Linked DNA regions of Homo sapiens. The protein of the gene in region 1 interacts with the protein of each later gene in a biochemical or structural test. Each region holds a gene or a part of one and is shown in the gene's direction. Other genes may lie near its edges. The genes, in order: MAP3K1, MBP, APEX2, UBXN7, EPN1, UBAC1 and CCDC69.

Region 1 (3,500 bases):
AGTTTGTCCCTCTTTTTCAGGGTGATAGCTGAAATCAGTGAAAGTGCCTGTAAGTGGCGCCCAAGGGTTTGGAATTTTTCCTTATATTACAGAATTTAGGGGCTTTTTCTTCCTATTTACTGTCTTTGAAGAAAAATTACAGTGTTACTCTCCATTGAACAGCCTATTGTGAGTTTGGTAGATATAATTACCCCATCCTATTTTTGTAACTTAAAAAACCAAACTATCAATTTGCTGGCCCCGTGAAAGAACAAGATATGCTGTACTTGTTAATGTTAGTTTTTGTTTAAAACTAAAGGTATTTCACAGGCTGCTTTTATATCCTCATATAGCCCTCAGATTTCACTTCCTTTTTAAAGCTATTAGGCTAAAAATATGATTTAGTGACCTTTTACTAAAGAGGAGGTATAAGAGCATTATTACCTAAAAATTACTCTTAAAATATTAAGTGGGTGACTTTATAAAAATAAAGGTAGTCACATAAGTTAGTCTTCCGTGAATTTGTAAGTTTTTAGTTAAGAATGGTGTCAGTTTCATTTTAAATCAGATAAGAAAATTAATGCATTCTTCAAAGATGAACCTTAATATAATTCTGGAAGAGAAATATAAGAGCTAGAATTGTTGCCAACTTTTATTTTCTTTTCATATCTGATTTTGGCAAGAGTGACTGGTTAACCAACATTCCTTAATATACGATTTCCAATGCACTAAAACTCCATTTTGTTAGATACGAAAAACAGGAAGTAGCCCTGTTCATTGATATTCATTTACAACTTCCATAGCACCTCGAGCATAATATGTTGCATATTTTAGAAATGGCCACTGACTTGTCAACTTGCAGATTTCAAAATGTGGGAAGAAAGGAGTGTTTTTTTGCTTTCAACAAGAGCAAAAAAAAAACCAGCTACAGCTTGCCTAGGCTGAGTCGGCTAATCAGTCCTTGACACTGGCTGTGTGCATCCCAAAGGAAGAAATGAGGGGGTGGCAAGGTAGTTAATGGGGAATGGATTACCATGAGGAAAAATATGGGGCATTCAGAAATGCTCTCAGGTAGAAAGCACCTCTTTTGCATTTTGTACTCCAGTCATCTTCTTGGGTTGAGGGCTGTCTGTTACACAGAAGGCGATGGGAAAATGTGTCATGGAAAAGTAGTAGTCTCTAGAGGCTGCTTAGGAACTGCGTGTATATTACACCTCTAATCTTGGAATTCTTTGCTTCTATCAAATATATCAAGTATAGACTTGGTTGTTTTCCTTAGTCCTTGCCTCTTTCTATATCCTAAGTTAAAAGCTAAAGCAACTTAAACATGTAAATGGTAGACTATTAATGTGAGGAAATGTGTAAGATTAGGAGTAACCCAAAGTTGTCTTTAAGAAATTATTTAAGAACATGTTTAATCATGAAAGAAATAATCAGGGCCGGAATTAGTAAATGGTTCATTGCAAAGCATGAGATTAGTCAGATACTCTTTTCAGTTTGCAAAAATATATTAGGATTTTATCTGTGGCTTAAAACATACTCATTGAGCATATAGATATGCCTAGATACCTTTTACATAATCAACTCTTTTGCCTTCTGTGTGTGTGTATGATATCTATTATATGTATTATATATATGTTTATATATAATCTCATTTGATCATCACTGCAGCCCCCTAAGATAGTGTAATTTCTGTTTTCTGTAGGTGCAAACTCATCTGAGATGGTAAAACCTCATGATTACACAACTAGAAGACAGCTAGGATTCAATCCCAAGTCAGACTGACTCCACAGTCCATTTCTTTCCACTACTCTGCTTCTTCCATTTTCTTTTTTCAAATTAATAATCAAATTAATTGATTATTTTTAAGGAGAAATTTGTTTTGCAGGCATTCTAATAGACCATGAGCTAGGTCTCTACCCTGTGCTAAGTTTGCCTGTTAATGTATATAATAGGTATGTTTCTGTAACCTGGCCTTGTATATGTAATACAAGTAAACTGTATTTGGATCACCCTATCATGTCAGCCAAAGAGGGTTAGTCATTAGTGTTGAATGTTTCTTAGATTTATTGATTTGTGCTGTATTAAATCATAAGTGAAAGGAGATAAGCTGAAATTAATATGGTTCATTCATGGTAATCACACAGGAAGAGAAACTTTTACTATTGCTAGACCCTACCCCTTTGTTATTGTTTTAGATTTCATCCATTCAACATTTATGAACTTCTGCAAGGTGGTGGTCTTGAGTGGTGGAGAAAAAGATCATGAGTGCACAAGCTGTTTCTGTCGGTAGGTTGTAGTATGAACATGTTTCACAATACCGTGTTAAGTGCTATAAGAGAGATGGGGATACAGAGGGGATACAACATATTAGTTTCAAACTATTTCTGCCTATTTTCTGATAAGAATATATACAACACTGCATGTTCAGGCATGTTTTTTTTTCTTCCAAGGGAAAATTAAAAAGGAGATACGGGGAGCAAGAAATTCAACATCTGCTACTGCTAGTTCTGAAATTCTGTCTTTATTATTAGTAACAGCAACTCTACTAGTTACGAAAACAACATGGAGAAATATAAAATATTCTTTAGGGCATAAGATGATCAAGAAGATAGCCTTGTCTTTATTTACTCTATGGCATGTCATTGGTGATTGAGTTATGTTTGGTATGGAAGGGAGTTCTGTATTGTTAGTGATTGAGTCCTTTGGAATACCAGGCTGGTTTGATGCAGATGTTAATTTGATCGAGATGTGGAGATGTTGTAGCATACTAAGGGGAATTGTTAAAACTCACCAAGTGTATAATTCTGCAAGTACACATCTGTCACCTGGGAATTACTAAGCCACCAGACCTCTTGAAGCCTGGAGAAAGTGCTTGGAGCCACATGGGACAGCCTACACAGTACTGTAGTTAGTACGTTAACTAAGTTCATCACTTGTAAGCATAATGATGGATAGACATGGAGTGAGAACAGGGTCAGTACTGGGGTGTAGGTGGAAGCTTTGCTCTTGACAGATGTTATCATTACTTTTCTTTTTTTATTTTTAAATTAGAAATGGGTTCTCACTATGTTGCCCAGGCTGGAATCGAACTCCTGGGCTCAGGTGATCTTTCCACATAGCTGGAACTATGGGTGCAAGCCACTGTGTCTGGCTTTACTTTTCTTCATTGCCTAAACAATAATTTAAGTTATATGTTAACACATAATCTTCAAACTGGTCTTATGGTATTCTGAATACTAAACATCAGTTGTTAACAGACCAGGAACTTTATCTGATTCTTTGCACCATCTCCCAGCATCTAGACTAGTGTCTGGCACCCATGAATATTAGGTACCCAGAAATGTTAACATGAATTAATTTTCCAAAAGTGGTTAAATTAGTATATCTGAAGATTAACTTACTGTAGTGAGATTTTAATCATGATCTAGCTTAAGACGAGTTTTGAAGGCAAGAACTGTCTTTTTTTAGGAGTTTTTGTATATCGTTTGGTATTTATTTATTTATTTTTGAGACGGAGT
Region 2 (3,500 bases), on another chromosome or scaffold:
GCGCTTCCCGACTGTATCTGCCACGGATTGCACCGTGCGCTCCGTGCGTTCTCCAGAGAGCTCACTTCTCTTGAGATTAGGCTCCCATGTAACGCTTAGCCTAAAAACACAGGCTTTGCAACCTATGGAGAGTGCTTGCCATGGGCTGGGAGCGGAGGGGGCAGCAGAGAGAGCACAGGGCATTTTTAGGGCATTTTTCGGGCAGCGAAACCGCTCTGTCGAGGCTGCCATGGTGACTGAAGACCACGCACTTGTCCAAACCCACAGCGTGCACAGCACCGAGAGAGCCCTAAGGCAGTGTTGCTAATAAGGGAAACTGTTCGGGGTATGTGGAAACTAATTTCTGCACAGTTTTTCTGTAAACCGAAAAGTGCCATGCAAAACGAAGACGATTAAAAACAAGAACAAAACCACAGGCTTCTAATTCCAAGATCTCAGTGCAGCAGACATTTTATGCTCGTATTCGATAAGTGCACTTAGGAGCTGCAGACCTGGGGACATCCCCTTGGAAGCTCTGAATGTCAGAGGGCCCGCTACTCCTAGCCCCGGAAAGGGCTCACGGTGAAGCAAAGTCCGCCGCCTCCCTCAGTGTCCCAAGATGGGCCCATTCCCCAGCTACGGAGCCTCTGGGAGGTGTTTTCCATCCTCTGAAACACTTCCTGAGTGCTCTGGGAGATCTGCATCATCTAGAATATTTTCAATCTCAGGTCTATACTTCTTCACCAACTAGGACAGAAGTGGGGAGGCTGGGCACCCGGGTGCTTCTGGCAGCTGATGGATGCTAGCCACCCTCAGCAGGCAGGAGCCCGTTAGGAAATGGACGGCGGCACAGGGCTCCCAGTGCAGCCCACGGTTCTCTGTGTCTTTCCAGGTGACGCCTCGCACACCACCCCCGTCGCAGGGAAAGGTAAGACCTTGGAATGTTTTGATTGATCATCACTTTTCTGATAGACCTTCTCTAAAATCCCATAATGTACCAAAGAGAGAGTTAGGCTCCGAGCTACCAGAATCCATCCCAAAACGTGTTGCCAGGCAGCTCCCAAGTAGAACAGGTCGGCAGATCCATGCACCCCTCCTGTCCCTCCCGCACCTGCACAGCCGCTGTGGCCCTGAGCCTGCGGCCCCCCTCGGAGCTCCGGGTGGAACCTGTTTTTACCACCTCAGCTCCACTGTGCTTTGACTGTGTTTCCTGTTGATTGAAAGGACTTTCCCTTCACTGACCACCATGTCATTATTTCTCTGTCTTCCTCATGCAGGGGAGAGGACTGTCCCTGAGCAGATTTAGCTGGGTAGGTGACGAACGCACTTCCATCGGCTTCCTCTTCCGTCCCAGTCCTCACAGCCCCGCAACTTTTGTGTTCTGCTCTGTTTCGGTTGCTTCCTGGCCTCCTTTTCTCTCCTCTCGAGACCTCTCTGCCCACAGCTGGGATCGGGCCGCCTTGTCTTCCACTGGGGAAATGAAACGTGGTCTTCCCTTCCGGAAGGTCTGGTCTCTTGCTTCTGTGCCGGGGACCCAGCCCTGCAAGGCCAGATCCTCTTCTCCCAGAGGGTTCCCAGGCGACGTGACTGGTCTCCCTCCCAGGGAGGGAGCAACACCACGTCCGAGAAAATGTTTAACTTCCTCCAACACAACCAGTGCGAGAAGCCCCAGGAACCCGCATGTGGAAGTGGGACTGGCTGGCCCGTCTCAGTGACCCCAGATGCTGACACTGGGAAAATGATTCTGCTGATGAACAGAAAAAGAGGCTAAATAGAGTTGCTCGATTTATAATAACCTCATTAATCCAAAGATTTTTGTTTTGTATGTGTTTAAATAATAATTAAAACATAGATATCAAGCCATCCAGAAAATCTTCCTTAGGAATTTTAGGCTGGTTAATACTGAAAGCAAACTTTCAAGGAAGGTTTAAAATGGCCAATTTGAACTTTCTAGTGAAAAAATTTGGTGTCTGAGCCAAATTAAAATGCCAATCATTATATTCTAACCAAACTTACAGACTTTAGTTACTAGCAAATACCAGATATGATTCTTACTGTATAAAAGTTATAATTTTAGAATAAAATGGAGGAATAACCACCAACGTATTGTAGATAGGTTGTGTCTGTCTCCGAAACTGCAATGCTCTCATACGCTAGAACAGAGCCTACCTACACTTTCTGCTCAATTAATAAGCATCATATAAATGAATGAATACATTTTAAAAGAAAAACAACAAGGAGAAAGAACAGGAAGAAAGAACAGGGAAAGAAAACAGAAGGTGGGGAAGAGGAAGGAAGAGAGGGAGGAAGGGGCAGGGTACTTGAGAGACCATGAGGATCCCAGATCAGTCCCACACATGATTACACTGAATTATGAACTAAGATATTTACCGAAACGTTTTCCATTAATGCATATTTGACTTGCTTTTTCTGACCTAATGAATTTGCAAAACGATGACAATCATGTAGCAAATGTACATGGACTAGTACTCACAATTAATTTTTTATTTTCTATGCCAGCAGGAGACAAAGATGATAGAAGAATGAAATTCATTTTTGACCCAGAAATCTTATTTTAGCTACTGCTTTATCTGCTCTTAATTTTCTAGGAGTGGACTTTGGGGCCGTCGTGCCGGATCCTCCCTGAATGTGGAGCGATGGGGGGTTGCACACAGGCCGTTCTGCCCCAGCAGCTAACAAGAAAGACCCTTGCATTCCTCCCTGCATCTCTCCCTTTTGGGTCCTACTAATGTCTGTTGAATTTCTCTTTTTTCCAAAGCAAAATCCTTCTCTGCATTTTGTCTGCTTGTCTGTTTCCCAGAGCCGCAGGACTCTCTCCTTGTCTGGAGTTCCAGAGAGCCCCCACTTTCTCTTTCTAAGCTGTGTTGTGTGTTTCCTGGTACATTCTAGGTTCCCCAAAGATAAACATGACTAAGGATTGGAAAGGAGGAAAGGCCGCGCAGATTGTTAATCTGAAAGTCAATCCCCGGATTTAGCTCTCAAAAATGCTTTATTTTTGGAGAAAAGCAATAGAGTAAGACAGAAGGACTTAACGCTTGCAGGGAAGTGGCTTTCTGCCATGTAGAGCCAGGCTGGCAACCTGCCCTCTGCCATCAGGGAGTGAGCATGAACCTGGAAACCTCTAGGACGCAAGAGCGAGGCTGGCTGTCCCCTCGTGTGCAGTGCTTAGACCTTCTTGCCACACATCCCGTCCCTCACCTCACTGGATAGCCCCCGAATCAACTGTTCACACGAAAGCAGCTGCCTGGTTCTGAGTGGCCATGCTCACTCCCAAGCACAGGCTGAATGAAAAGAAAACTGTGCAAGTAGCTTGTATGGTGGGAAGCCCCCAGCAGAGGCTGAGGGTGCAGCCAGGTGCTCTGGAAGCCTTGAGGCCTCTGGTGTCATCTTCCTCACCTCTAAATAAGAGATGGGCTAGGTTGGTCAAGGTCCTCCCTGTCCTAAAACACTTTAATGAAATGGAAGAAAGGCTGCAGGCTGATAGAGGAGGGACAGTCTGG
Region 3 (3,097 bases), on another chromosome or scaffold:
CAAATGAATATATGAATCTCTACCCTACACAATAGTTTTAAGGGTAAAATGAGATGAGAATGGTAAAGTGCGTGGGAGCAAAGGAAAGTCTTGTTCCAGCGGAGGACAGGAAAGTGAGGGTGGGTTAGAGCAATCAAGGGGAGGTGGTATCTGAGCTCAGCTTTGAAGGACAAGAAAAATGCCCATTGGCTCCTGATTAGTGAGGCAGTCATGTCAAACATGGAACACTGTCACCTTTGGAGATCAGAATTGGGTTGGTCAGATATGAAAGGCAGCAAGTTTGTGGTAAGATTGGAGAGGTAGGCTGTTATGAGTTGCTGTTGGCTAGGAAGCCTCAATATGGGAGAGGGCCTGTCTGAGCTCTTGGGCCCAGGAAAAAGTATATGGGCCAGGACTGCTGCACCCCTTTCTAACAATCCCACATTGTGTTTTTCAGCCATGTGATCATTCTGGGTGACCTGAATACAGCCCACCGCCCCATTGACCACTGGGATGCAGTCAACCTGGTAAGGCTCCCTCTAGGTGCCTGGCCCCACTCCTGACTGATTCTGTTTGTCCAGCCAACCAACCCTGAGTTTTTGGCCCAGGGACAGCTTCCTTTATGGGAAAGCGGAGCTTGGCTTGCAATACTATTCTTATAGTACTGAGGATTGGTCATTCATTCAATAGACAATACTGACTCTGCCCATGGCCTGGCCCTGAGCCACATACTGAGGACTCAGGAGTCAGATCCAGCCCTTGGCTCCTAGGAGCTCTCCAGCATGGTGGTGGGCTACAGACACATGGCTAGCCAATTATAGGATGGTATTCTCAGGGCAGAGGCACAGATGGCATCCCAGAAAGCTACAGGAGCTCAGAGATGGGATTCCTAGGTGAGCTCGGACATCAGGACAGGCAGCTGAAAATGGCTGAATCTTAACAGATGAGTAGAACAGAGCTTTGAAGTAGAAAGCATTCTAGCATGGGCAAAGGTTTCAAGGTGAGAATTTGCATTGTGTGCATGGGGAACCACAAGTCCCTTTCTTCTTAGTGACACAGGAAGGGAGGTGAGTGGCAGAAGGTGGGGCTGGAGAGTTGTTGGGGGTCAGATTTCAAGGACTGTGAATTCCACATTGCCTTGGTCATTTCCTTAATACACTGTATTTCTTGTTTATGAACTTTCAGTACCTCCCTGTTACCTCTGTGATGCAGAGAAAACATGGAGACCTAGCATTCAAGGCTCTCCTTGGTCTGTGACCTGTCTCTTATTTCCACCTTCAGTGTCCCTACACATTTTGTCCTCTCTAGACAGGTTGTCTCCTGTCGGCCCGTTGTAAAAGTTATTCTCATTCTGGCTTTTCTCACTGTGCCCTGAATTGGTGGACATGACCCCCTCCCTGTCTTTTTGTTATATGAACCTCTTATCTCTAAGTTCCCCTAGGCCCATGGTTTTCAGCCCCTAACTGCATATTAGAACAAAAATATCAATATCTTAGCACTACTCCAGATCAATGAACTCAGAACTCTCGAGTGTGGGGCCAGGGTAGTGGCACGTTCTAAAAGCCCCCAGTGTGACTTTATTGTGCAGCCAGGCTTGAGAACCACTGCCCTAGAATCCACAAGCCAGCTCTCATCTTTTCTTGCCTTATGTCTCACGATGGGGGATCAGTGATTTATGCTGGTACAGTCCTACTCAGCACTGGGCTTGGCTTAGAGAAGGGACCGTGGGAATATTCCTTGATTAATTCACAGAAGAGCTACATAAATGTAGATATGGCTCCCAGCTGGGAAAATGAGCAGAAGTGAGAGAATGAGAGAATGGTGGTGGTGGTGTGGTGGGGAGCGGAGATAATGCTACAAAGTGTGAGCCTTCAGTCCCTCCCTGCCTCATTCCTCTTATGCATTCATTCAGTGTGTTCTTTCAGATTCCTGTGATAGCATCATACATCTTTGTGCCTTTTCTACTTAGTTCAGAGGTATCCTAGATCTCTTATGTATACCTCTTTCATTTTCTCCTCCAGGAAAAGAGAACTAATAGTGCCAGCTCAGATGACTTACACAGTCTTTCCAAAATAGCAGAACATACCCACTTTCTACCAGGCTTGCTCTTTTAGTCTTGTCATTTCTGTAAATGGCACCATCATCCCCTTGATTGCTTCAACTTAAAGCCTGGGAATTGTGCTAGTATTGTCTTTCTTTCTTACTCCACTTCCCACATTCAGTTAGTCAGCAAGTACTGTTGATTCTAGCTACAAATCATCTCATAATTTCATGTTTCTGTCTCCTCTGGCACCCACCCTAGTCCAAGTGACCATCATCTTGCTTGTGTGACTATGGCAGCCATTTCCTGCTGGTATTCTGGTCTCCAGTCTGGTCTTTCCTCAAGTCTTTTGGGTACGCAGCACACTCCCTCCACAGGCCCAGCACAGAGACTGTTCTTAAAGTTAGGAGCACCCTCCACCTAGGTTACTCTTACTCAGCCCCCACACCTCAGCTCCAGATCACTTCTCGAAAGGAAGCCTCCTTGGTCCCCAGGAGTAGATCAGGTTCCTACTTTGTCCCTGGCATCATGCATGGCACATAATAGGTATTCCATGAACATTTCTTGCATTGAATGAGTGGGTGGGTAGGTGGATTGAATGGATGGACTGATGGATGATGGATTGGGGATCAGAGCCTAAGGAAGTATTCAGACCTGGATCCTTGCAGGTCCTCAGCTCAGGAGGTAGGAATGGTCATTGAGGGCTTTGACACACTAGATAAACCAAATAGTGCCAGAGGGTTTAAAGGAAGAAGCTGACAGTCTTCCTAACTCTTAACCCCAGCCCTGCTTCCTAGAGGCAAACACTTTTAACTTCCTGTTTTCCATCCTTTTGAAAAGCAGTTCCAGGAATTGCTTTGAGTAAGCAAACTTTCAGATTTGCCATTGACGGACCAATGCAAGACAAATGCAAGCTCGTGCAGAGGGAAAAACAAGCATGGTCTTTTAAATCAGTAAGGATGAAAATCAGAATCCCAGCTCTGCCAATTCCGGACTGTGTGACCTTGAGCAGTAGTCCTCTTGGGACAACCAAATTTTCTTATTTGCAAAATGCAGCAGTTAGTCTAAGTCCCTTCC
Region 4 (2,633 bases), on another chromosome or scaffold:
ACATATCAAATCATTAGATAAATTCTGACCTGGAATTGAATTCCCCCTTTCTTAAAATCTTTTTAATTTGCTTTTTTCATAGACTCAGTATGGAACTCTTAACTGATAAGGGAGAGATTCTTGATCTGGAACCGTTCCCTGCCATTCTCCTTTTTTCTCTCTATCTAGGTAGCTGGTTCCATAGTGCCCGTCACGAGGGTCCATTTCAGTTTGATGACATTAGACTGCTTACACTCAGCTGGATGCCTTGCTGTTTGCAGCAACATGATTTTACAGTATGCTTTTCTCAAAGCTTTGCATTCTTAATGGAGATATCAAATGGTGTAATTCCAAATATAAATATGTTTATGACACTAATCATATGCTTTTAACAATAACTTTTTGATAACTTATTGCCCTGTAAGTTAAACCTTACACGGAGTGACTGTTGCCATCAGAAAATCCCCTTTCACCTGCTAGAGAGAGTGAAAGTAGTGCGTGGCCTCCACTTTTCAGTTAACGAGTAGCAAGCTTCTAGTAGGGGCTGCTTATCTGACCCATGTGGGGTCTTGGGCCTTGTTACTTTCCTGGGTTCGTCCCTTCAGCTGGAAAGGCTGTTGAAAACACTTGCCAGGAAACAGTAAAGCTGTGAGAGAATCTTCTAGTCTTAGATATAGAGAAATGAGTACCAGTTGATGCTAACACGATACTTAGACTTTGAGGGGCTTCCATCCAAGCTTTGGCATGAATCTGTTAGACACGGTTTTCTTCACTCCTCTGATAATCTTTTTTTCCAGAATGGTTTTTTGTTGTTGTTGTTGTTAACAAATTCTAAACATCCAGTGTTACTTTTTGTTTTGTTTGTTTTGTTTTGTTTTGTTTTGTTTTGTTTGCCCTTCAGGAAAGTCCTTTTTCGAGTAGGTATTGATTGTTCCCTGGAAACTCTCAGCAGTGTCTGTGCAGGCTCTGTGCATGCTTTGTATGAGTTCGGCTTGAACAATGCATTTGAAGTCACCTGGGATGTCCAGTTCTGGCATGTCTTCATTGATTGTGTTTTTAAACATGTTTCATGTTTCATGTCATTTTCCAAACCTCACTTTACATCTTACTCAGAGAAGTTAATCAAGGAATGAAATTTCTAGGGGGATAGGGATGATGAGGGTGGGTTGGGGGCTTGAGTGAAGTCAACTTGGGGTATTTGCTTTAAAGTGTTTTCTAAAGCAGTTCCTAACAGTATTTAGAGATTCCCTGGGATGTTTGTGGCTCAACTTATTCTGGACAAAGTGTGTGTGGGGGTGGTCTTACTGAGATTTGCATTCTTAATGCAGGACAGGCTCTAAATTTCATCTGTACTCTAAATTTGTGATTGAATCCAAGAAGATAACAGAGACAGTGCTCCTGTTGTAATGTTTCTGGCAAGTGCTCCCTAAAATGCACATCGAATTCTGTTTTCTGGGCCTTTTCTCCAATGGTGCTAGGAGATACCGTTGATTTCTGCAGCTCTTCTCAGTGGTGGGAAGAAGTCTTTGGGATTGTTGAGCAAGGGGCAGCTGGACCATCCACTAAATTTTTTTGTTCAAGACACATTAGAGACCCTCCTGTATATCTAGTAAGTCATAATAAAGGTGCTTGGGAAAGCCTTAAATTTGAAGACACATGGAGGCGGTAGAAAATTAAACTTGTAAGAGGAGAAAAACATGCCATTAGGTAACGCAGAGTTGTAACTACTGGCTAAGACTCAATGGAACTTCCACTTGCTCTAAAACCAGGGAAATCTTAGATAACTGGGTGTGATCTACCTATAGATCTACCTAGTCTATAGGTAATAATTTCCAGAAGGAGGATCTTGCTGTCAGTTGGGGATCCTCTGGTTTGGTCTGTACCAAATTGTGAATACTCTTGCTGTGTTGTACCCAGTTGCTTTATATTAATACTGCAACTTGAAACGGGGAGGGTGGGGGGACAATGGGGTGGGGGAGGGAAGGGAGTGGGACGATAAGTCTTTTGAAGACATCAGCTCACTGTGCTGAGAGAGGGACCAAACTCAAGGAAACCTCTGATCTATACATTCAACTGCTGCATTTTTTTATAAATACATGTAAATGTCCTGTTGTAATATTTGATCTTGGAAATAAAAACAAAAACTTTTCAGTATTAGTTTTTTTTGTGTTGTTGTTTTTACAAGATAAGACTCTGGATATTACTTTCAGTAATACAATTGAGATTCCAAAAGCTTGCCCCCTCACGTTCTCATTTAGGTCAGTTACTATTGATTGACAAAGGTTACTTTGTAGTCCCGTTGTTATGTGTAACGTTTGCTAGCCTTTTTTCTGCTCTTTGTGGTATGTCAAACATTCATGGTAAACACTCTGTAAATATTAGTCCAGTTGTTACAGAAACATTGGGTAAGCTAGGCTTGTTAGGTAAGTATGATTCTGTGTTTGACATACTTGGGCGAATATTCAGTGTCTGTTCTTTCAGACCAGCAGTAATTACTAATGGTTAATTAAGGACTTAGCTTAATTGAAGGAAAGATAATTACTAAATTAATGGGCAAAAAGGAGATACGATTATATGGTATGACAGAAATTGTTATTGCTGCTGGATGCAGTGGCTCATGCATGTAATCCCAGCCCTTTGGGAGGCTGAGATGG
Region 5 (3,500 bases), on another chromosome or scaffold:
TCCTAGTCTTGGCCTGCAGAGGTTGTAGGGTGGGGGACTTGGGGGGTGGGGTTGGACACAGAAGCCCCCGTCTGTCTAGGCTATGGGGTTTCCTGTCTCTCGTTCCCTGGTCTGGGTCTCACGCGTTTCTCACCCGCCCTCCAGCCTCATCAGCAGCTGTGGGCTCAGGCCCCCCTCCCGAGGCGGAGCAGGCGTGGCCGCAGAGCAGCGGGGAGGAGGAGCTGCAGCTCCAGCTGGCCCTGGCCATGAGCAAGGAGGAGGCCGACCAGGTACTGGGCGTGCAGCTGGGGCTGTCTGTCCGCCACCCGCCTCCACGCCTCACTTCAGGCTCCCTCCCAGCCAGGCGTGGGCCTGGCCCTCACTGTCGCTGCTCCACATGCTGTCACTCGTCTCCTCCCCAGTCCTGCCTCATCCTCACCCCGCCGTCCCTCTGCGTGTCACTCTCTGCCTGTCCCTCACTGGTTCAGGGACCCCCAGCCCTCTCTTTCTTCGGCTCTATCTGACCCTGGCTCTGCCTCTGACTCTGCCTCTGGCCCCTCCCGTCATGCCCCTCACACTCTCTCTCCCCCAGCCCCCGTCCTGCGGCCCCGAGGACGACGCCCAGCTCCAGCTGGCCCTTAGTTTGAGCCGAGAAGAGCATGATAAGGTCAGAGCAGCCTCCCTGTCCCTGCCCCTGCCAGGGGCTCCCCTCAGACCAGCCCCGTCGCCCCTTCCTAAGTCACCCCCCACCATCCTGCTGGGCCCGAAGCCCACAGGCTCACGCGTGTTGAAACCTCAGTACCTTCAGCCGTAGGATGTAGGACCACAAGTCAGACAGAGCCTGGGTGGTGGCCAGCACAGCTGTGCCAAGGTTGCTCGGGTGACCAGGGTCCCTTCCTCCCCCCAACGCAGGAGATACCACCGAGGCGGGTGCCCGTCCTCCCCGGGTGCGCCAGCACAGCACCCCACTCCCCTTATCCCCTGTCCCGCCTGACCTTTGACCCAGGTGCCCCATCCCCATTTCATACATTGTCCGCATCCCATCGAATCCTTCAGCCGCTTTCGTTGGGGTGGGAGGGGTTGCTGGGGCTTCCAGGCTGAGGTGGCATCTGCCCGTGGCTCACGTTCTCATGTCTCCCTGGTCGTGCCCGTGCCCCAACAGGAGGAGCGGATCCGTCGCGGGGATGACCTGCGGCTGCAGATGGCAATCGAGGAGAGCAAGAGGGAGACTGGGGGCAAGGAGGAGGTGAGCGGGGCTTGTTCTGCCCTCCCTGGCCCCTGCAGGTGTCCGTCCGTCCCATCGCTCATTCCTGCGTGGCCAGGTCCCTGGAGCAGAGACTGAAACACAAGGTCCTGGAGCTGGGCACCGGGTTTCCAGGCTTGGTCGGCCTCTCTGTGCCTCTCCCTCCCTGCTGGGCTGAGGCCGGTGACTGACCAGGCTGCCCTGCGGCCACCTCCTGTGGTCAGCGCTGGCCATCCCCCTTCGGGCTGAGCACCGTGAGGGCCACCACCGGCCGCCACAGCTGAATGGGGAGGCCCAGAATAGGCCAACAGCCTGGCATGGCCACAGGGAGGAGGGTGCAGGGCTCGCCCCATCTGTCACACTTTGTCGGGCACCTCCTTGGTGCCAGGCCGTGTGCTGCACACCCAGGGCCTGTTGGTGAGCGAGGAGGCATGGTCCCGCCCTCGCGAACACTGTTTCTGTGGCGTCCCCATGCTCTGCAGCTGAGTAGCAAACCCTCCCACAACCTTGTGCTTCCAGGTCACGCTTCAGTACTTCCCTGTGACGGGCCCGCTGGCTGGTTGTTTCGTGTCATGGCTGAGGTCACTCATGCCTCTGGGCCCGGGGTGTCCGCACTGGCCTTGCCCTCCAGCCTCCTCCCCTGGCCTCTCCCTGGTTACTAGTCTGTCCTGAGTGTCCTCATAGCACAGTAGCTGCTGCTGCTGCCGCCCCCCAGGACAAGCTCGTCGGGCTGGGTTGGAGTTGCCTCGTCAGCCTGTGCACTGCTATTGGTCTCAGCAGGTCCTGAGGCCAGCCCAAGTTTGAGGGGTGGGGACAAGGCCTCCTCTCCATGGGAGGCGGCAGACAGCTTGTGGCCATAAGTGATCAGGCACAGTGGGACTTTCTTGGTAGACGGAAAGCCTCTTTAGGTTGGCCTCGGCCAGGGGGTCTCTATCAGTGTCCACCACAGCCCAGTGACCCGAGTAAGGGCTGCCCTGCTGGGGGAGCACCAGATCTCACCCATCTCTTCTCCTGCCCTGCCCTGGACTCAGCTCTTCTCCCCTTCCCATCCCCGCCGGGGCCTTTGCCTCACGGGTGCTGACTGGAGATGTGTGCATGAGTATGTTGGGGGCATCTGCACGTTCTGAGACGGGCTCTGGTTAGCTGGGCCCGTCGTGTGCCCACTTCCAGAACACAGGACCATGCATGCGTGTGCGTGCGGCATGGGAAGACCTGCAGTGCGATGACTGCGGGGTGACAGTGGGGCAATGGGCGTGGGAAGGCCTGCAGCGCGATGACTGCGGGGTGACGGCGGGGCAACGTAGGGGGCATCGTGAGGGGTGCTCAGGTTGACCTGAGTGGGTTCATGGGGGGCTTCCCAGGGGAAGGCATGGAGCAGGGGCTGGCCAGTCTGGCTGGAGAAGGCACGGTGGGCAGAGGGAGGATCGAGCTGCTTCGGGTCGAGCGAGGGGAGGGCTTGGCCTCCATCCTCAGTCAGGGCCGGGCAAGGACCTGGGAGCAGGTGGAGTTAAGGGGCTGCCCTGCTGCAGTGTGGAGAATGGATGTGGGGCAGGAGTGGGGCTGTGTTGGGGCTCCCTGGTGGTACCCTCGGGTGGGGTAGGTGGGCAGGGGTGGGCCGACCCCATGACGGATGAGGAGGGAGGCCAGGTGGTGTGTTTGGGGCCTGCCTCCCTCTCACCCCTTATGGATGGCTGCTGTCTGGACACCCAGGGCCTGGCCGCCTCCCCCGCCACGGGCCCCAGCTTGGTCCCTGTCCCAGGCTTCCCACCACTTCTTCATGCTCCTTCTCTTCTCTCTCCCCCACAGTCGTCCCTCATGGACCTTGCTGACGTCTTCACGGCCCCAGCTCCTGCCCCGACCACAGACCCCTGGGGGGGCCCAGCACCCATGGCTGCTGCCGTCCCCACGGCTGCCCCCACCTCGGACCCCTGGGGCGGCCCCCCTGTCCCTCCAGCTGCTGATCCCTGGGGAGGTCCAGCCCCCACGCCGGCCTCTGGGGACCCCTGGAGGCCTGCTGCCCCTGCAGGACCCTCAGTTGACCCTTGGGGTGGGACCCCAGCCCCTGCAGCTGGGGAGGGGCCCACGCCTGATCCATGGGGAAGTTCCGATGGTGAGTGCGTGGCCCACTTGCATGCAGCCCCTACGCCTGTGTGCACCTGTCTTTGGTTGACTGTGCCCTTGGACAGGGACAGATCGAGCCAGTGGCGCCGGGCAGTGGTGGGGCGTCCTGGGTGCAGGGGAGGGGGCAAGGGCGGGGGTCAGATGAGAGCCCAGCACA
Region 6 (3,500 bases), on another chromosome or scaffold:
CATTCAAATAATGCCTTTAATTGTGGAAGTCCTTGAAGTAAGCTGTTTTGAAAATCCTGGAAGTATTGCTAACAGATATCCGCTGAGATGACCATCAAGCTCCAAGCCAGTGGGGGATGGGCACCGTCGTGGGCCGAGGATGAGCTGCATCTCAGGTTTTGACCTCTGAGGGTTAAGACTAAACTCTCCACCCTCACAGACTTTTTCAGAACTGAGCCGGTTAAAATGCCTGTTGCAGGATTGTCACCAATTCTTTGCACAATTATTGGGGCCGTGCTGTGCCTGCCTCCTGGGCCATGGGTCACCTGGGGGTTCGTGCCAGGCCTGGGAGCTTGTACCTCAGCTAGGGCCATGCAGATATCATGCAAAAGTGAGGGAAGGCTGGTGTAGATGCTTGGTTTGGGGGGACCAAAGGAACCCATGCTCTTTTGAGACAGGGTGTCGCTCAGTCACCCAGGCTGGAGTGCAGAGGCACAGTCAGGCTCACTGTTGCCTTGACCTCCTGGGCTCAAGCAGTCCTCCCACCTCAGTCTCCCAAGTAGCTGGGACTACGGGCATGTGCCACCATGCGCAACTATTTTTTATATTTTCGTAGAGATGGGGTCTCGCCATGTTGTCCAGGCTGGTCTTGAACTCCTGGGCTCAAGTGATCCGCCTGCCTCGTGCTGGGATTACAGGAGTGAGCCACTGCACCCAGCTGAAGCCCTGCTCTTCTTCTTTTTTTTTTTTTTTTTTAAGATGAAGTCTTGCTCTGTTGCCCAGGCTGGAGTGCAGTGGTGCAATCTTGGCTCAGTGCAACCTCCGCCTCCCAGGTTCAAGTGATTCTCCTGCCTCAGCCTCCCCAGTAGCTGGGATTACAGGCATGCGCCACCACGCCTGGCTAATTTTTGTATTTTTAGTAGAGATGGGGTTTCACCGTGTTGGCCAGGCTTGTCTTGAACACCTGACCTCAGGTAATTTGCCCGCCTCAGCCTCCCAAAGTGCTGGGATTACAGATGGGAGCCACTGCGCCCGGCCGAATCCCTGCTGTTCTGTTCTCAGGGCATCCAGCACCCTTTATGCCATTTTGTGGATATGAAGTGATAACCAGTGTGTTGGATATACGTGTTGTTTTTTCTAGATGTCCTATTATTGATAAAAAAGCGTGCTCCATCACCACTTCCCAAGATGGCTGATGTCTCAGCAGAAGAAAAGGTAAATTTCAAAGTTTGCAATTGGGGACCTTGGTTGGTAGAAGTCTACATTTAAGAATTACAGGCTGGGTACAGTGGCTCGCGCCTGTAATCCCAGCACTTTGGGAGGCCGAGGCGGGTGGATCACGAGGTCAAGAGATCAAGACCATCCTGGCAAATATGGTGAAACCCCGGCTCTACTAAAAATACAAAAAAAATTAGCTGGGCATGGTGGCTCATGCCTGTAGTCCCAGCAGCTCAGGAGGCTGAGGCAGGAGAATCTCTTGAACCCGGGAGGCAGAGGTTGCAGTGAGCCGAGATCGTGCCACTGCACTCCAGCCTGGCGACAGAGTAAGACTCCATCTCAAAATTAAATAAATAAATACAAACTTAAAAAAAAAAGAATTATAAAGAAGTTCTCTATACTAGTTGTTCACCAACCCACGCATTCGCCATTTACAGTAGATGTGGTTATAAGGGGTTCTCTCTCCCGGCAGAGCCTGTTTAATCCGTGTCAGTCCTGGTCCCTCCCTGCTCACGGGACCAGCACGGAAAACCTGCCTCTGAGTTTTCTGAGACAGAGAGGAGGGTAGGGACACATCCTGCGTGACGGTTCACTCCCGCGCTGCTGTCCGCCTTCACCTGCGTGTGCTCCTGTTCCCTCCTCTTTTCAAGCAGCCAAGTCAGTCCTGACAGAAAAACGGAGGAAAGTGGGTAACCAACCACCACACAGAATAAGGGCTGCGCATGCAGAGAGTGGCCGGTGAGGGAGCACTCGCGACAAGCCCCACCTCACACCGCACAGCCTCAGCATCCCCATCGGAAAATCCAAACGCAGAAATGCAGCGCAGTCTGAAACTTTTTGAGTGCCAAAATGACACTTAATGGAAGTGCTCGTTGGTGCTTTTTGAGTTGATTATTTGGAATGCAAATATTCCCAAATCTGAAAAAACCCGAAATCCGAAACAGTTCTGGTCCCGGGCATTTCAGATGAGGGATACTCAGCTGCACTGTTAATGCTGAGAGAGGCTGAGTTCTGCCTGTCTTGTCTATTTCTTGCAAAACAGAACTGGATGTCGTTGGTGTTTACATTCACTCACACGTTATTGATTCATGGTCTGCACCGTCCACTTGCACGTGTACCTTAGGAACACCGTGCAGTGTGTTGTTTACTGGCTGCCCTAGAAGCTCATGTTTTGGAAAGCTCACTGAGCAGAGGAAGATGCGTTCTGCAAGTGGCGTGTCCTACCCCACAGCAGGGCCTGAGCCCGTGCCGAGCATGGAGCCTGCCAGCTAGAAGGGCAGCCACTTTCCTCTGCTGTCTTTGCATTACTCATCTCAAGGGTAGAATTTCTTACTCGTGCTTTGAAAGGCTAAGGAGAGTGTTCACCCCAGAGAAAGAGCAGGTCAAACTCTTTTGGGCTAGGCCCATGCCTGGTAGTGCATAAGCTATTTTTGGGTTTCATCTGGGACCATGGGTACCCAGGAAGAGCACCCTGGGCTTGGGTCCCCTCCTTATCTTCAGCCACACCTGGCCACGCATGAGTGACACACAGGCTGCCGCCCCACCCATCTGCAGCGGACAGATCTGGGCCTGCCTCCGCCTGTCCCTGAGTCAGGCCTGTTTCTGGGAACTGCTGCAGGCAGCATTCACAGTTCTCAGATTACAGTTTGACCGTTGGTGTTCAGACTTACAGGCCCGTAACTAATATAAACAGCGGGGTCTGACCATACACCCGTTGCCCCACAGCCTCTTGGATGGGTAGCTTGGAGCTAACCTGAGGAGCTTACCTTTTCTCTTCAAATATTTGCAAACTGAAACATTGTAAGATGTCAGTTCATATTTTTATGAATTAATTATTATTATTTTTATTATTATTTTATTATTTTTGAGACAGAGTTTCGCTTTTGTTACCCAAGCTAGAGTGCAGTGGCGTGATCTCAGCTCACTGCAACCTCCGCCTTCCAGGTTCAAACGATTCTCCTGCCTCAGCCTCCCAAGTAGCTGGGGTTACAAGTGCGTGCCACCACGCCCGGCTAATCTTTTGTATTTTTAGTAGAGATGGGGTTTCACCATGTTGGCCAGGCTGGTCTCGATCTCCTGACCTCGGGTGATCCACCTGCCTCGGCCTCCCAAAGTGCTAGGATTACAGGCATGAGCCATTGCGCCTGGCCTACATTAATTTTTAATTTAGTTTTTGTTTTTGTTTTAGAGACAGGATCTCACTCTGTTGCCCAGGCTGCAGTGCAGTGGTACAATTATAACTCACTGCAACCTTGACCTCCTGGGCTCAAGCAGTCCTCCTGCCTCAGCCTCCCGAGTAGCTG
Region 7 (3,500 bases), about 94 Mb from region 1:
CCTCAGAGCCTCCAGAAGAGCCAGCTCGGCTGATACCTTGAATTTACACTTCTAACTTCCAGAACTGTGAGAGAATACATTTCTGTTGTTTTCAGCCACCAAGTGCGTGGTAATTTGTTACAGCAGCTTTAGGAAACTTTCATATCGCAAGGTTAATTGCTCCTTACCCACCCTCTCACCCCCAGCCCCAAGTTGCCAGCAATCAAAAATGACAGCAAGAACCCAGTGCCTCCCTTTGGAACCCATCTTGGCAGCAGAAGAGGCAGCACTGTAAACAAGGAGGTGCCTGGACAGGGCCCATTGCTTTTGGACACCAGCAGCTGCATCTGTAGAGGAAAGAGCACTGGACTGGGAGTCAAGAATGGGGCCTACTTCTTTATATTTTTTATTGATATATAATATTTTACATACTTCTCAGGTACATATGATATTTTGTTAGGTGCATAGACTGTGTAATGATCAAGTCAGGGTATTTGGAGTTTCATCACCTCGAGTATTTATCATTTCTATGTGTTGGGAACGTTTCAAGTCCTCTCTTCTAGCTATTTTAAAGTATACAGTTCATGGTTGCTATGGAACATTAGAATGTAGTCCTTCCATCTGGCTGTATGTTTGTATCGTTTGACCAGCCTTTCTTCATTCCCCGCACCCCACACACACGTCCTTCCCAACCTCTGGTATTCATCATTCTAACAATGGGTCCACTTCTGCCTCTTTTGCTAACTATTCTCTTCCCCAGCCTTGATTTCTCTGTCTGTACCTTGACTCTGGGGGAGGCTTTCAGGTTCCAAGAGAGGTACCTTTTTCTTGTTGTTGTTAATTTCTTTGTATATAAGTAATTCTTGAATGCGTTGTTGCTTTAAAAATCCTAAGAATTGGCCAGGCGTGGTGGCTCACGCCTGTAATCCCTGCACTTTGGGAGACTGAGGCGGGCGGATCACCTGAGGTCAGGAGTTTGAGACCAGCCTGACCAACATGGTGAAACCCCGTCTCTACTAAAAATACAAAAATTAGCCGGGCGTGTGGCACGTGCCTGTAATCTCAGCTACCCAGGAGGCTGAGGCAGGAGAATCGCTGGAACCTGGGAGGCAGAGGCTGCAGCGAGCCGAGATCGCACCACTGCACACCACTCGCTCTAGGTGACAGAGCAAGACTCAGTCTCAAAAAAAAAAAAAAAAAAAAAAAATCCTAATAATTTAGGTAAAATGTAAAATGGAAGCTACCCTTCCTTGACCACAGTAATTTTAGTCCATTCTCTGGAGATGACAACTGTTATCAGTTTGTGCTTTTCTAGGTACTTTTTCCTATGCATTTTTTTATCATTAGTAATAGTTGGCCGGGCATGGTGGCTCACGCCTGTAATCCCAGCACTTTGGGAGGCTAAGGCGGGCAGATCACCTGAGGTCAGGAGTTCAAGATCAGCTTGGTCAACATGGTAAAACCCTGTCTCTACTAAAAATACAAAAATTAGCTGGGCATGGTGGCACATGCCTGTAGTCCCAGTTACTGGGGAGGCTGAGGCAGGAGAATTGCTTGAACCTGGGAGGTGGACGTTGCAGTGAGCCAAGAATACACCACTGCACTCCAGCCTGGGTGACAGAAAAGAAATAGTTTAGTTTGGATATTGGTATTTTACCAAATGCCTTTCCATCTTTGTACATAAAGGTCTACTTCACTCTCTTAAACATATGAATGAAATGACATAGTATTATGTCCCTGAGTATATCCAGCCAGTCCTCAGTTTACAGCATTTCCCTACTGCAAATGGTCCTGCCCTGAGCATCCTGTGCATCCTCCTTGTCCTCACTAATGGGTACTTATTTCTGTTCACAGTGCTACTGTAGAATTAGGAGCATGCTGCGTGCAACTTGGGAGATGGCTGAGCTCTGTCATTCTCTGCTTTCAGGCAATCCCGCCCTCTCTTTTACAACCACCCTTACACTGTCTGCTGAAGAACAGGGGATGGTGTGGAGGGCTCCAGGTTCTCACCCAGGCCTCCTGAGCAAGGGACCCTCCTTTCCTGCTCTCCAGAGAAGCCCCCTCCATGACCAGAGCTAACAGCTGAGTGTGTCAAACTGCCTCTGCCCTGCCCAGAGCAAACAAGCCGGACAGGATCGACAGAAGATGAGATAGCAAGATGACCTCACTCTGCCCCTTCTTCCCCATCCACAGCATGTCAAAACCAGAAGGGCTCTTACGTATCCCATTGCACAATTCCATGCCATGCAGAGGAGGGTACAGAAGCACAGAAAAGGAAGAGTGTCCACTCAAGGTCACACAGCAAGCAGATGGCAAGCTAGGACCTTGGCTCTGGACTCTCAATTTGCCATTGGACTGTGAGACAGGTATCCAGGCGCTCAGCCTCAGATGGCAAGCTAGGACCTTGGCTCTGGCCTTCCAGTTTGCCATTGGACTGGGAGACAGGTATCTGGGCCCTCAGCCTGTCTCTTTCCCCACCCCCATCCAGCTACTGACACCATTTTCTGTCCAGCTCCTTCAGGGTCCTGCCTGCCAGGCTGACCCAAATGCTAGAAATAATGTCTAGTGCTTTTGCCAGCTCCAGGCCCTCTGAGGCAACCAGAACTAGCAGACACCCTGGGAAGCTGATATGGGACAAGAAAACGGGAGCCCTAGGGAGGAAGAAAATAAATAAGGTGTATTAGAAAGGCTTTCTCTAGGCCTCAGTGTCATCGTCTGTGAAGTGAGGCCTTGCACTCAAGGCCCTTCTGATGCTTGTCTGCTGTGGTCTGGCTCACCAGGTGCAGGGGTATTTAAGAAGGAAGTGGTCCTTTGCTCCCCTGAGACACCTCATCAGTTGGTCAGATAGGAGCAGTGGAGACCACATCCGCCCCTGACTTGTGTGCTCTGGGGGTCCTGCAGGTGTTCAGAGCATAGGCCGTGTCCCCGGTGCAGCGGAGTGGTGCAGCCTGGCACTTCTAACTTTAAGTTGGTTGTACAATCACATTGGACTGTCCTCCAGCCAGTGAGGAAATGTTGACCACACACTATATGATATGAAGGGGATGAATTAAATCTTTAATGTCCCTGGCAGTGTTTGAGTTTCAATGACATCAAATTCAGGCATTACTTTGGCAGAATATCTCTGCCCATCTTAGAGATGGGGAGGCTAAGGCCTGTATTTATGGTGTTCTGTCTGAGCTTCTGTAATTCGGGTGTGAACACTAACATTTCTCAACAGCCCTGATCATTTAGGCCCCGCCCTTCCTCCCCGAAGGCCCTGGAGTGGGGCCCCTTGGGCCACACTCCCCGCCTCCTTCCTGCCTCTACCCTCGGCCAATAGGCTCTGACTGTGGTTACTTAGATCCCAGCACTAGTGGTGCTGGGCCAGACACCGGAAAGGCAGCTCTGATATTGAGGAGGGTGTGACCTGAGCCCCTTGAGACTTAGAATCACCTCTCCCCTACAGGCTCAGCTACTCAGATAAAGCTGACCCTGGCATCAGGGGGACGGAAAGGACTCTAGCCTCAGCTGTGAGTCTG

The links.
Region 2: of the proteins of MAP3K1 (region 1) and MBP, one has a biochemical effect on the other in vitro, tested with the Homo sapiens proteins (one study listed by BioGRID).
Region 3: of the proteins of MAP3K1 (region 1) and APEX2, one has a biochemical effect on the other in vitro, tested with the Homo sapiens proteins (one large-scale study listed by BioGRID).
Region 4: of the proteins of MAP3K1 (region 1) and UBXN7, one has a biochemical effect on the other in vitro, tested with the Homo sapiens proteins (one large-scale study listed by BioGRID).
Region 5: of the proteins of MAP3K1 (region 1) and EPN1, one has a biochemical effect on the other in vitro, tested with the Homo sapiens proteins (one large-scale study listed by BioGRID).
Region 6: of the proteins of MAP3K1 (region 1) and UBAC1, one has a biochemical effect on the other in vitro, tested with the Homo sapiens proteins (one large-scale study listed by BioGRID).
Region 7: of the proteins of MAP3K1 (region 1) and CCDC69, one has a biochemical effect on the other in vitro, tested with the Homo sapiens proteins (one large-scale study listed by BioGRID).

The regions. Positions count from the first base shown.
Region 1 is NC_000005.10:56,818,549-56,822,048, forward strand, and holds part of MAP3K1 (mitogen-activated protein kinase kinase kinase 1), read left to right. Parts: intron 1-1,684; exon of another isoform or gene 1,685-2,197; coding exon of another isoform or gene 2,198-2,268; intron 2,269-3,500. UniProt on the Homo sapiens protein: Component of a protein kinase signal transduction cascade. Activates the ERK and JNK kinase pathways by phosphorylation of MAP2K1 and MAP2K4. May phosphorylate the MAPK8/JNK1 kinase.
Region 2 is NC_000018.10:76,986,284-76,989,783, reverse strand, and holds part of MBP (Golli-MBP), read left to right. Parts: intron 1-871; coding exon 872-907; intron 908-1,256; coding exon 1,257-1,289; coding exon of another isoform or gene 1,290-1,694; exon of another isoform or gene 1,695-2,081; intron 2,082-3,500. UniProt on the Homo sapiens protein: The classic group of MBP isoforms (isoform 4-isoform 14) are with PLP the most abundant protein components of the myelin membrane in the CNS. They have a role in both its formation and stabilization.
Region 3 is NC_000023.11:55,003,363-55,006,459, forward strand, and holds part of APEX2 (DNA-(apurinic or apyrimidinic site) endonuclease 2), read left to right. Parts: intron 1-436; coding exon 437-506; intron 507-3,097. UniProt on the Homo sapiens protein: Functions as a weak apurinic/apyrimidinic (AP) endodeoxyribonuclease in the DNA base excision repair (BER) pathway of DNA lesions induced by oxidative and alkylating agents.
Region 4 is NC_000003.12:196,347,162-196,349,794, reverse strand, and holds the end of UBXN7 (UBX domain-containing protein 7), read left to right. Parts: 3' UTR 1-2,133; downstream 2,134-2,633. UniProt on the Homo sapiens protein: Ubiquitin-binding adapter that links a subset of NEDD8-associated cullin ring ligases (CRLs) to the segregase VCP/p97, to regulate turnover of their ubiquitination substrates.
Region 5 is NC_000019.10:55,688,726-55,692,225, forward strand, and holds part of EPN1 (epsin-1), read left to right. Parts: intron 1-144; coding exon 145-269; intron 270-571; coding exon 572-646; intron 647-1,141; coding exon 1,142-1,225; intron 1,226-3,028; coding exon 3,029-3,332; intron 3,333-3,500. UniProt on the Homo sapiens protein: Binds to membranes enriched in phosphatidylinositol 4,5-bisphosphate (PtdIns(4,5)P2). Modifies membrane curvature and facilitates the formation of clathrin-coated invaginations. Regulates receptor-mediated endocytosis.
Region 6 is NC_000009.12:135,951,374-135,954,873, reverse strand, and holds part of UBAC1 (ubiquitin-associated domain-containing protein 1), read left to right. Parts: intron 1-1,120; coding exon 1,121-1,194; intron 1,195-3,500.
Region 7 is NC_000005.10:151,214,093-151,217,592, reverse strand, and holds part of CCDC69 (coiled-coil domain-containing protein 69), read left to right. Parts: intron 1-3,500. UniProt on the Homo sapiens protein: May act as a scaffold to regulate the recruitment and assembly of spindle midzone components. Required for the localization of AURKB and PLK1 to the spindle midzone.